Linked DNA regions of Homo sapiens: region 1 is linked to region 2. The links come from fine-mapping of genetic effects on gene expression. A gene starts in region 2. The other region holds a variant in brackets. All regions are shown on one strand. Distances are between the middles of the regions.

Region 1 (5,375 bases), 25 kb after region 2:
TGTCTTCTCCAGAGGAATTCGGGACCTGGCTCCACATTGGCCCCATACCTGCATCCCACAGCCCTCCCAGTCCTAGGCTTTGACATTTTAGAATCATTCAATTCAATCCAACAGATGCATGGAGGGCTTTGCCTCATCGAAAGCCTGTCCTTGGCAATATACAGGGTGCAGAAATGAAGGAGATCCCTCCCCTCATGGAGCTCCCAGTCTGGGAGCAGAGAGTCAGAACAGGGGACTGCCCAGCCTGAAACATGCCTTTATCTGATTTACCCAGGTTTCCCCACTTCCCTCTCCCTGGCCATTTAGTAGCAATAGTTAGTATTTGAGTGCTAACTGCACCCGACCCCAAGTTAAACCTTCACATGTGTTCATTGGCAGTACTAAGAGGTAGGTATTGTTATTGCTCCCCATTTCACAGATGAGGATACTGAAGCACAGGGAAGTTACTTGGCTCAAGGTTTCACAGCCAAGATTTGAACTCAAGAAGTCTGAATCATGCTTGAGTTCTGAACTCCTACCCTCATCTGATTGTATTCTTAAGTCTCACCTCAAACACCACCCCCTCCACAGAGCCCTCCCCAGACCCCCACCTGCCCTGGCAGGGTCAAAGGTGTCCTCCGGCTCTCACAGCCTCCAGGGCACACATCTGACATTGTTCTTGCTACACTGGTTATAATTATTGGTTTATATATACCATCTTCTGTGAACTCCTTAAGGTCAGGGGCTGAGCCTTTCATCTCTGTGTCCCTAGGTCCTGGCACCTAAGTAGATGCTCAATAAATGCCTGAGGAATGAATGACGGAATTGGCAATGGAGTCGTAAATGAGTTCCCTCCCTTGCCCTCTCCACCCCCATGACAGGCAGCTTCCCAGTTCTGCCCTTTCCTCAGTACTCTAGACATTTCCTTCATATGCAGTCCCTTCTCCTTCTCACAGGACCATCACAACAGACAACAGCTGTTGTTCAGGTTCCCTGGCCCCTTTGTTCTCTCCAACCTGCCCTGCCTGCTGTCCTCCCACTCCTACTTAAAACATGCAACAGCCCCTCTCTTCAAGCAGTGCTTCCGGAGCGGTCCCCCAGTCCACCAGCCACAGACTCACGCTGAGTGGGGTGCTTGTTACAACCACAGATTCCTGGGCCCTAGCTCACCCTGATGGCATCTCTGAGAATCCAAGTGCTGAACACAGTTGAGAGCCACTAGTCTCCAGAAGAACTTAACCCAGTTTTCAAGGCCTCCACAATCTGCCCCCAACCTCCTTTTCCATTCTTCCCACCCAGCCCTAAAGGATTCCTGTCTGCTGTCCCTTGTCCTCTGTGGAGCCTACTTGGTATTTTCCCACAGCCACATCCCTGCACGCTCTGCTCTCCCCTCCTGCCCAGAGCCCACCCCCAACCTCTGGCTCTCTCCTTTCCTCATATTATCTAAACCATGCCCATCTTCAAGGCACAGCTCAAATTCCACCTTCTCAAGAAGCGTCCCCTGCCCAGATCCGCGAAGCCCTCTTTCCCACCCACTTCTGAGGACTGACTACCTGTTTGCACAAAGTGGTGTCTGTCTGCAGATAACCCTTCACTTTCCTTGGTGTACCTATCTCTACATTTTGGTTGTGAGTACCTGGAGGGCAAAAACCTTATCCCAAAATCCTCCTGCTCACCACCCACCCCCACCCCATCCTATATGCCTAGTTCCTGGCTGAGTCCAAAGCTCAGTGTCCAGTTTGATTGACAGGCGAGAGGCTGTGCAGGACCAGATACGATGAGCCACACTCCAGACTAGCAGGAATTTTCCTCAGGGGCAACACGTCCTCTAAAAACCTTCACTGGCAAGAAACCAAGAAACTTGAAGTGAGAAGAGAAACAGGATGAGGAGGGGATAACTGTGGCAAAATAGACCACACTTCAAAGGCTGAGGTTCAAGTTCCAGCTCTGCCTCTCTGTGAGCTCTGCAAGGGGCCTAACCTCACTCTGGTTTTCACATTTTCCCATTTCTAACCAGGTAACAAGATGATCCTCTCAGAGGAGAGTTGCAAGGCTTACATAAAGCCAGATGTGTAGCCATGTCTAGAATGTACTCACTCACTTAACAAATACTCATGAAACATCTGTAATGTGCCAAGCACTGAGGGCAACACAGAAGGGAACAAAAGACTGGCTAAACAGTCTGTGAAAACCAGAAAACTGTCATCAACAACACAGCAAGAGTAAAGAGGGAGGTGTGGGCATGCACAGGACACAAGGAGAGGGCCTCTCACCTGCCTGTGGTCAGGAAGCCTGGAAGGATGTCCTCGCCGACTGCACAGCCATGTTCTGTTTGCAAGGATAGAGGGAGCAGCATGCCTAGTCGGGGTGGTGGGGAAAGTACAACACAGGGAAGTGTGAAATCAGTAGTTCTGAGAAGGAGGCCTTCTGGCTTGGGATGGCTGGAGGGCAGAATGACTGTGGGCGACCAGCCTGGAGAAGAAGGCCTGACTCAGGAGGGCCTGCATGCAGAGCAGAGTTAGTCCTCATCCTCAGGTCCACGGGAGGCCACAGAAGCATTTTAAGCTAGAATGAGGATGACAGATAGTAGTGAGGCAGGCTGAGATGCAGGAAGGCCAGCGAGATCCAGCAAGGAGGATGTGGCTTGTGTGGGGGCTGTTGTC[G/A]CCACGTGTTAGCCAACCATGTGCATGTGAAAGAGGCTGACTTACAAGAATCTGCTCCTGTAAGCCCAGAGAGGCCCAGGGACAACTTCCACTTTATTCTGGATGTTTTCACTTTTGGGACATCCTGTTCTGAGTCAAGATTCCTCCTTCTGAACATGGGACTTTCCAGAAGGACCACAGCTCCTCCCGTGCATCCACTCGGCCTGGGAGGTTCTGGATTTTGGCTGTCGAGGGAGTTTGCCTGCCTCTCCAGAGAAAGATGGTCATGAGGCCCCTGTGGAGTCTGCTTCTCTGGGAAGGTAAGTGGGGCAGGCAGATAGCCTGTCCTCGGAGAGCTGAAGGCCCCTCCCCAGCTGCCTATGCCAGACGTCTGGGCAGGGATCCCTCGACCTGGGTGAGAACCCAGAAGCTGAGGGTGGGTAGGAAAGACTAGAACAAGCTCTTGGGCAACATTTTAAGCTAGGCAGATACAAAGAGATGCAGGGTCCTGGGAGGGAGGAGGTGGCAGCTTGAGGGGTATTCTTATCTGTGAGACATGAGCTGTTTTGTGGCCCAGAGCAGTAAAAACGGAGCCAGTGGGTGATACTGCTGGTTTGGAGAGAAAGTCGGCTGTGAGAATGGTGAGGACCCGGCAGTGTTAGCATGCAGAAACTCTGCAGAGTTTGAGGAGAGTAGCAGAGGGCAGGGCAGAGCAGGGTTCCCCACAATCAGCAGAGTGTGTTTTCAACAGCCTGTGGGGGAGCTGAGGTCCCTCCCTACAGGCCTTTATAAGGGGAGGCAAGTACTAAGTAGGGATGAGAGAGGCTAAATGTGGCCCACGTGGACTTAGGGGTGGCCGACGGTGGTGTGATGTTGGGATGGCTGATACACGGGGTCTCCTCCACACCGGGCGATCCCTCTATCCATCTGATGCCTGAGTTCCCTTCCTTGGTCAACAAGCAGCCAACATGACATGGGTCAACACTGCCGGGCCATGGATGAGGGTTTATGGGGTGCAGCAAAGATTAAGATGATATTGTTTACATCAGAGGCTCATAGGGACTTTGGGTTGCTTTGTTTCATCTCCTTGCCTGAGTTCCTGGCCCTGAGAGCTCCAAAGCCTGCAGATTTCTTCAATATTTCTAAACATGTGCAGGAAATCACACCTTAACCTCAAAAAAGGCCTTGGTCTGTTTGGTGAGACAAAAATAATTTGCCTTTTTTTTTTTTCTTTGAGACGGAGTCTTGCTCTGTCACCCAGGCTGGAATGCAATGGTGCATCTCAGCTCACTGTAACCTCTGCCTCCTGGGTTCAAGCGATTCTCCTGTCTCAGCCTCCTGAGTAGCTGGGATTACAGGTCACTGCCACTAAACCCGGCTAATGTTTGTATTTTTAGTAGAGACAGGGTTTCATCATGTTGACCAGGCTGGTCTCAAACTCCTGACCTCAAGTGATCCGCCCTCCTCAGCCTCCCAAAGTGCTGGAATTACAGGCATGAGCCACCACACCCAGCCCAAAAATAATTTTTCAAATGGCCCTTAATGATCAAAGATCTGTGTGACTGACCTGGTACAGACCCCTTATTTTTCAGTGGTACTGAAGCCTGGGGCAGGGTGATGTGTGGAAGGGCACACAGCTGATCTGTGGCAGCACCAGGAGGAGCAGGTAGGAGCAGCTAGGTCTTGGCTGACATCCAGTGCAATTCTCTTTGTGTGTTACATTCCTGCTCTGCATTAACACTGAAGTCATCTCCAGTGTGAGAGGAGGTTGTTGGGCCTGGAGGACAGTGAGGCAGAGGGGGACCGGAATTATCATGGCCGACTGAGCAACCATCCAGATCATGTCTCATTGACCAAAACTTCATCACCTCTTATTCTTCCCTACACCCTGTGCCAGCGACAGGCATAGGGTCAGTCCTCAGCAGGGTAGGTCATTTATTCAATACCATTTACTAGGCTTCTCCCACAGTCTGTTCTTAAACAGTGGTGGGCACTGGAAGCAAACGATGGGGAGAAAGAGCTCACGGTCTAGTGGGAGATGCTGACTCATAAACAGGCAATAAGAATAGAGGGATAAGGGTAGTCAGCATGGTGGCCCCAGGCCACTGTGAGAACACAAGAGAGAATATGTAACCTCTCTTGGTTACATTACCTATGAGGGATAGGGGAGGTCGGAGGAGGCAGTGATGCTACAAGAGTGGGCAGAAATTAGTCAGCAAAGGAGTCAGGGGGGCACTTCAAGGAGAAGCGTCTCCCATACACGTCTGACTCAAATATAGTCCCCCAAAACAGCATCTTGCTTTCTCACCCCCTGTCTGTTTCTCCTCCTGTTCTGGATCACAGAGAATAACATCCAGTGGATCCCAAGGACCTGGGAGCCGTCCTCGACTCCTTTTTCTCCTTCACTCCCCAGAGCTAATCTATTACCAAATCCTACTGATTACACACCATCTTCGTGTTTCTCAATTCCTCCCACTTCTTCCCATCCCGGTTGCTCCCTTCCTCAATTCAAGTTGCCGTCACTTCTCCACTGGACTAACATGAACAGCCTAAGTCCTGCCCACCTCCAGTGCATTCTCCACATCCCTGCTGGAGTGATCTTTCTAACCATGCATCTAATCCTGTTACGCTCCTGCTTAAAACCTACCTGAGACGCCCCATTGCTCTACAGATAAAGCCCAAACTCCAGTATTGCTTTCAGGTCTCTGCATGATCTGACTCCTACCAACTCTGCAGTGTAATTTCCTACTCCTC
Region 2 (5,375 bases):
CTTTAAGTCTTCCTGACCCACACTGCTTACAATAGCTCACCTTCACCGAACACTTCCTACTTGCTAGGCATTGGTCTAAGCCTGCAATATCCAAGAAGGCAGACACTTGTCACATGTAGCTGCTTAAATTTTTTAAATTTCAACTAAAGTAAAAACAATTAAAACTTCAGTTTCTCTGTGTCATGAGTCAATTTCAAGTGCTTAATAGCTCTCTGTGGCCACTGAACTGGATAGCCCAGAAAACATTTCATCATCACTGAAAGTTCTATTAGATCTTGCTGTCTGAGAGCATCTTATGTTTTTAATCTTGTTTAACCTTCATAGCAACCCTATGATGCAGGTGTAATTATGTATCCACTTTAGAGATAAGGACCCTGAGACACAGACTGGTTAAAAAACTTACCCAAGGTCTCTCACCAGATTCATATCCAGAGTGAGGATTCAAGCTCAGATATTTGGCTCTAGGGCCTACCATGCAGAGCTGTCCCCTACCCCAAGCTCTCTTGCTCTCCCGTCTCGCCTCCGGAACTGGAATGACTTATCCTGTTCCCCAAAGGCCATTGTCCCTGACTACTGCCGCCCTGACAACTGACTCTTTGAGTGATGAGAGCACCTGGGCCTGGAGCCTCTTCTGGATGAGGATCCACACTCTATTTTCATCCCACCTCCTTTTAGCCCCTGAATTCCCTTAGAGTATTAGTGTTAGTATCATGGGTTTTAATATCTCCACTAACCCATCCCATTCTCAGTTCAAGGTCAGCCTGAGTCCTGGAAGATTCCAAACCTGGGCAGCAGCCCTGTTGCTGTTCCCTGAGGGTCACCTTCATCCCCAAGGGAACAACATGCAGCCAGCTCAGCTCAGGCTCAGCTCACCAACACCTTTGAAGGTGCAACAGCATCTCACTCTGCAGGGGAAGTGCGAAAAGTCAGATGCAGTTCACACTCTCATGCCGCTAGAACCCGGTAGAAGTTGCCAGGGCAGAGGCTTCATCCGTTCTGTGTGCAAACCACAAATGTTTGCAAGCTAGACCACTTGCGGTTATCCCCTCTGTCTCCTGCCCCAGCTGCTGCCCTGCAGGGACTCCACACACCCACAGGACCTGCAGCTGAACGAAGTTGAAGACAACTCAGGAGATCTGTTGGAAAGAGAACGATAGAGGAAAATATATGAATGTTGCCATCTTTAGGTGAGTGGACAAGATTTCTACTTCCTACTTTACTTCCTCACTACTTTTCCCTCTTTCCTAAACAACTGAGTCACCGAAAAAAATGCCTGGCAGTGTCAAATTAGTTTCCCACTTCCACTGAGTCAGACAATCTAGGGCAAGAAAACTTAGAAAATTCTCTCTGTCCATTCCTGGCCTCAGCAATAGGCACATCAAATTCCATCAGACTATGTAGAACTTCTCACTTAAAGATTTCCAGGAAGAACTTTACTGTCAGAAAATGCTTAGCCAGGCATGGTGGTGCATGCCTGTAATCCCAGCTACATGGGAGGCTGAGGCAGGAAAATCACTTGAACCTGGGAGGCGGAGGTTGCAGTGAGCCAAGATTACACTCCAGCCTGGGCAACAGAGCAAGACTCCTTCTCAATAAAAAAAAGAAAAAAGAAAGAAAAGAAACAAGAAAATGAAAATGCTTCCTAGTATTTTGCCTGACTCTGTGTTTCACCGTGAACTCCCATGTTCTGTCCACAGAGGAGATGAGAATGTGTGACCTCTTTTTCTGTTGAGGGAACATTGAATAATTTCCAGTTTTTATCTATTACAAATGATGCTGCTATGAGCACTCTTGTATATGTTTTTTCAGGCTTATATGTATACATTTCTGTTTGACATTTACCCAGGAGTGAAAATGCTGAGCCATCAGGGATCCCTGTGTTTAGTTTTGGTAGATTCTGCCAAGCCATTTTCTAGTGACTGTACCAATTTATATTCCCACTAGTGGTGTACAAGAGTTCTAGTTTCTTCACATCCTCACCAATACTCAGTAGAGGATTGCATGGGGAGGGTCACGGGCTCCCCCAGACCCAGCTCAGTCTCAGCTGGTATCACTCCCTTATTCTTATGGAAGGTGTAGTGGTATCTTATTATGGTTTAAATTTGCATTTCCACGGTGATTTATGATGTCTAGCTCCTTTTGCTATGTTGATTTGACACGTGGATATCTGCTTCTGTGAAGTACCTATCCAATTATTTTTGCCCATTTTTCTAGTATGTTGTCTGTCCTTTTCTTACTGACTTGCAGAAATTCTTATATTTCTTCTGTGGGCCCTTTGTCAGCTACATGTATTTAAACTATCTCATCACACCACAGCTTGCCTGTTCCTTCTCTTAATGGTGTCTTTTAAGGAATAGTTCTCAAAATCATACTGACAGTCTTAAAAGCCTCAGATGCCGAAGCTCCATCTGTGTTCTACTCCAGACTCATCGATGTCTGATTCCCTCCTGAACTGAGGATCCTGTGAAGCATCCTCAGGGCTCCACTTCTCCATCGCATTGCAGCATCCACACACATTTACCTCTGGAGACAGGAGCTCCTTGGAAGCTGGGAGGTCACTCGGTGGTCAAGGGGTAGATGATCTTAGTTTTACAGTGCTGCGCTGTCTCCCAGGCTGAATGACGCTGAAGCCAAGCAAATTCGGGCAGTCTCTGGACCTTTCTAATGGAGGTGTCCCATAACCATGTTCCATCCTAGTTCCCTGGCATAGGCTTGTTGAAGCTGCAGAAAATGTCAGGGATTTATTAGTGATTTACCGACTCCTTCATACTTAGTGTTCAGGAAAATTTATTCATGTAATACTTCTTCAACCAAAGAGGAAATATCAATTAGAGCTTTGTAAGTTTCTTTTCCACTTCCTATTTTGGCTATCAAGCTATAGCACCACCCAGCTCAGGCCACCCACCCACCTTCGGTCCTGAGGCCTGGTTGCTCTCTGCCGGCTTCGCCCTGACCTGTTTCTGACCTGTGTTCCCTCCGCTGTGCCAGAACAGGCCCCATGCTGCTCTGGACGGCTGTGCTGCTCTTTGGTAAGTCAACGAGCATGGGCATCCCCTCTTGGAGCACTAAGGACCGTAAGTCATCCCTGAGACACCAAGTTCCTCATCTTACCTTTCCCAATTCCAGTGGGTTTGTGGCTGGAGCTCAAGACAGGTGTGTGCACCTGGGCATGCTTGGGAGAGATGGGCACTGGGGTAGGAGAAACTCCTCAGTGTTTCCTACCCCGTAGTCCTGGGTCCTTGGCAGCGCAGCCCTTTGATATGTCAGAGATAAATTAGGGAGGCAGAAAATCACATTACAAAGTCCCCTAACTTCCCAATGACATTTCTACCTTGTGACATCAGGTTAAAATACTAATCAGAGCTGTCTCAAAAGGAAATGGAGGTTGCAGGAGGGAAGGAGGCTGCTGGGGGCAACAGGGAAGGAGTCAGGGAAATGAGGGGAAACAGTCCCAGGCATTTTGCTCAGCAATGGGAGGTGGAATTTTACAGGGTGACATATTTTTATGGAGCCTCAGCATTTTCTTAGAACCAGGTAACAATGGCCAGACCTCTCACCTGGTTGAAAGGCCTGTGCTCTGAGTAACCAAAGCCCTTTTCAAATTGACTGTCTCTCTTCCGCCTACATCTTCTCTCTGTTGGGAGCTGTTTCAGATCCATGGGGCTGGTTTGAAGAATCAACTCCATTGTCTGATCCATGTCTCTCTCTCTCTTCTCTCCATTTCTTCTCATGCAGGCTACTTGTAACTAAGAGAGCTGGTCTAAGGGTAGAGGATTGCACGCAGAGGGTCACTGGGCTCCCCCAGACCCAGCTCAGTCTCAGCCAGTGTCACCCCCCTTATACCTAAAAGAAATAATTTGGCATATATTTTGTTTCACTTTACAGTTTCCAAGTGGACCTACTTTTTGTTTAATTCTTGGTCCCAATAGCTTGCTTGCTATTTGTATTCCTTGAACTAGAAAAGCAAAACTGTTCCTAAATATAACCTCTTCCTGGACAGAGTTTGTGAGAATTTGACCCTGTGAGGAAAATGCCCCTTCCACTCAATGTTCCTTCTCCAGCATAGCATGCTACTCGTGTGTTCTATGAATGGCCATTTGGACAAATGAAAAGGTCTAATGCTCACACTGAGGCGGGGACAGGATAGCCTAATGCCTGGATATACTCCAGGCAGAAGACTCCCAGGGGCAAATGGCACTACCGGCACTACCTTGTAAAAGGAACAGCCCTTGGACTTGTCTAGATACAGTCTGAGAGTGTTCCAGCTTGGAACCCAGGACGAGGATGACAGACAGCAAATGAGGAGAGGAAGGGAATCAGTGACCGGCTGACTGGTGCACAGTGTAATGGAGAATCCAGCACCAGCAAATTTGGTCCCACTTGATGCTCAGGGACCCTGGAAAAACAGCCTAAAACACAGACACTGGGGCTGGGTGTGTAGCAACATTTATCTTACCATAAGTGTAGAGCTGCTATTTCCTCTCTCAAGAGCAGGGTGTGGTCATAATAAATTGGTGGCTATTACTATTATTGGCTGTCAGGGCTCCGGGAGGAAAGGAATCCTGACATTGAGCATGTGGGGACCTGGCTGAATGTGAAATATGTATTTAAAGTTTGGGAAATTAGGCTTAATTTTCTTCTGAGCTGAACATTAGCCAACTTCCCTCCTACCACTGGAGGCTGCTCCCCGCATTCTCACACAGCGTCCATAGGAGGTGTCATGGGGTCCCATACAGCCCTCCCAGCAATGTGACTGCTGCAGCTTGGCACTGCAGCCTGTTCCACAGTGCTAGAGCTCAGTGGTGAGAGAGTTCTTCATGTTGAGCCGAAATCTGCCTCCATGATCCCTCTAGTTTCCATTTCTGTCCTATAAAGTAACTCAGAATAAGTCTCCCCCTTCTTTTAAGCTTAGCCCACCAAGTATTTTGTGTCTTTCCTCTGTTGCATCTTTCCCAGATAAATATCTCCCGATCCCTCAGAAACTTTAAGAGGAAATTATCCTGCTCCTAGAGTTGGCAGGGGCTCCTGCCTTCATTTTTCGGAATTCTATTACGCAACTTGGTTTGACCATAGCTCTTGGCCACTTCATGATACTGTCACCTCATCTTCAGCCTATAGCTAATGGAGGTCCCTGGGCCCTCATTGCAGGAACTGCTGTAAGCAGGTGTCACCCCCTGTGTATGTTCCCAGTTGGCTGCTGTTTTGATTGCAGAAACCAATTTTGTAATCCCACCTCCAAGATCTTGCAGTACCATGGGGAGCAAGTCATTGAGATTTGGGGACAGGAGCTCATTTTAAGTGCATCTATGCTTCCTGAGTGCCTTCTGTCTTGTTTTTGGCTTCAGTAGTCTCAACCCTGTTTGTTTAGCACTTTG

The links. PIP is the estimated chance that this variant, and not a neighbour inherited with it, causes the effect.
Region 1: its variant is fine-mapped to the expression of FCRL6 in whole blood (INTERVAL, PIP above 0.99).

Annotation. Positions count from the first base shown.
Region 1 is chr1:159,823,998-159,829,372 of GRCh38, forward strand. SLAMF8 (SLAM family member 8) reads left to right here and starts at 2,876. Exons shown (of 5, transcript NM_020125.3): 1 at 2,876-2,941. The coding sequence starts at 2,902. The variant G/A (reference allele first, on the strand shown) is at 2,643.
Region 2 is chr1:159,799,427-159,804,801 of GRCh38, forward strand. It overlaps FCRL6 (Fc receptor like 6), which reads left to right and starts at 2,934. Exons shown (of 10, transcript NM_001004310.3): 1 at 2,934-3,029. The coding sequence starts at 2,999. LOC105371464 (a long non-coding RNA gene) reads right to left here. Exons shown (of 3, transcript XR_922195.2): 1 at 3,112-5,375; 2 at 2,522-2,721; 3 at 1,055-1,136.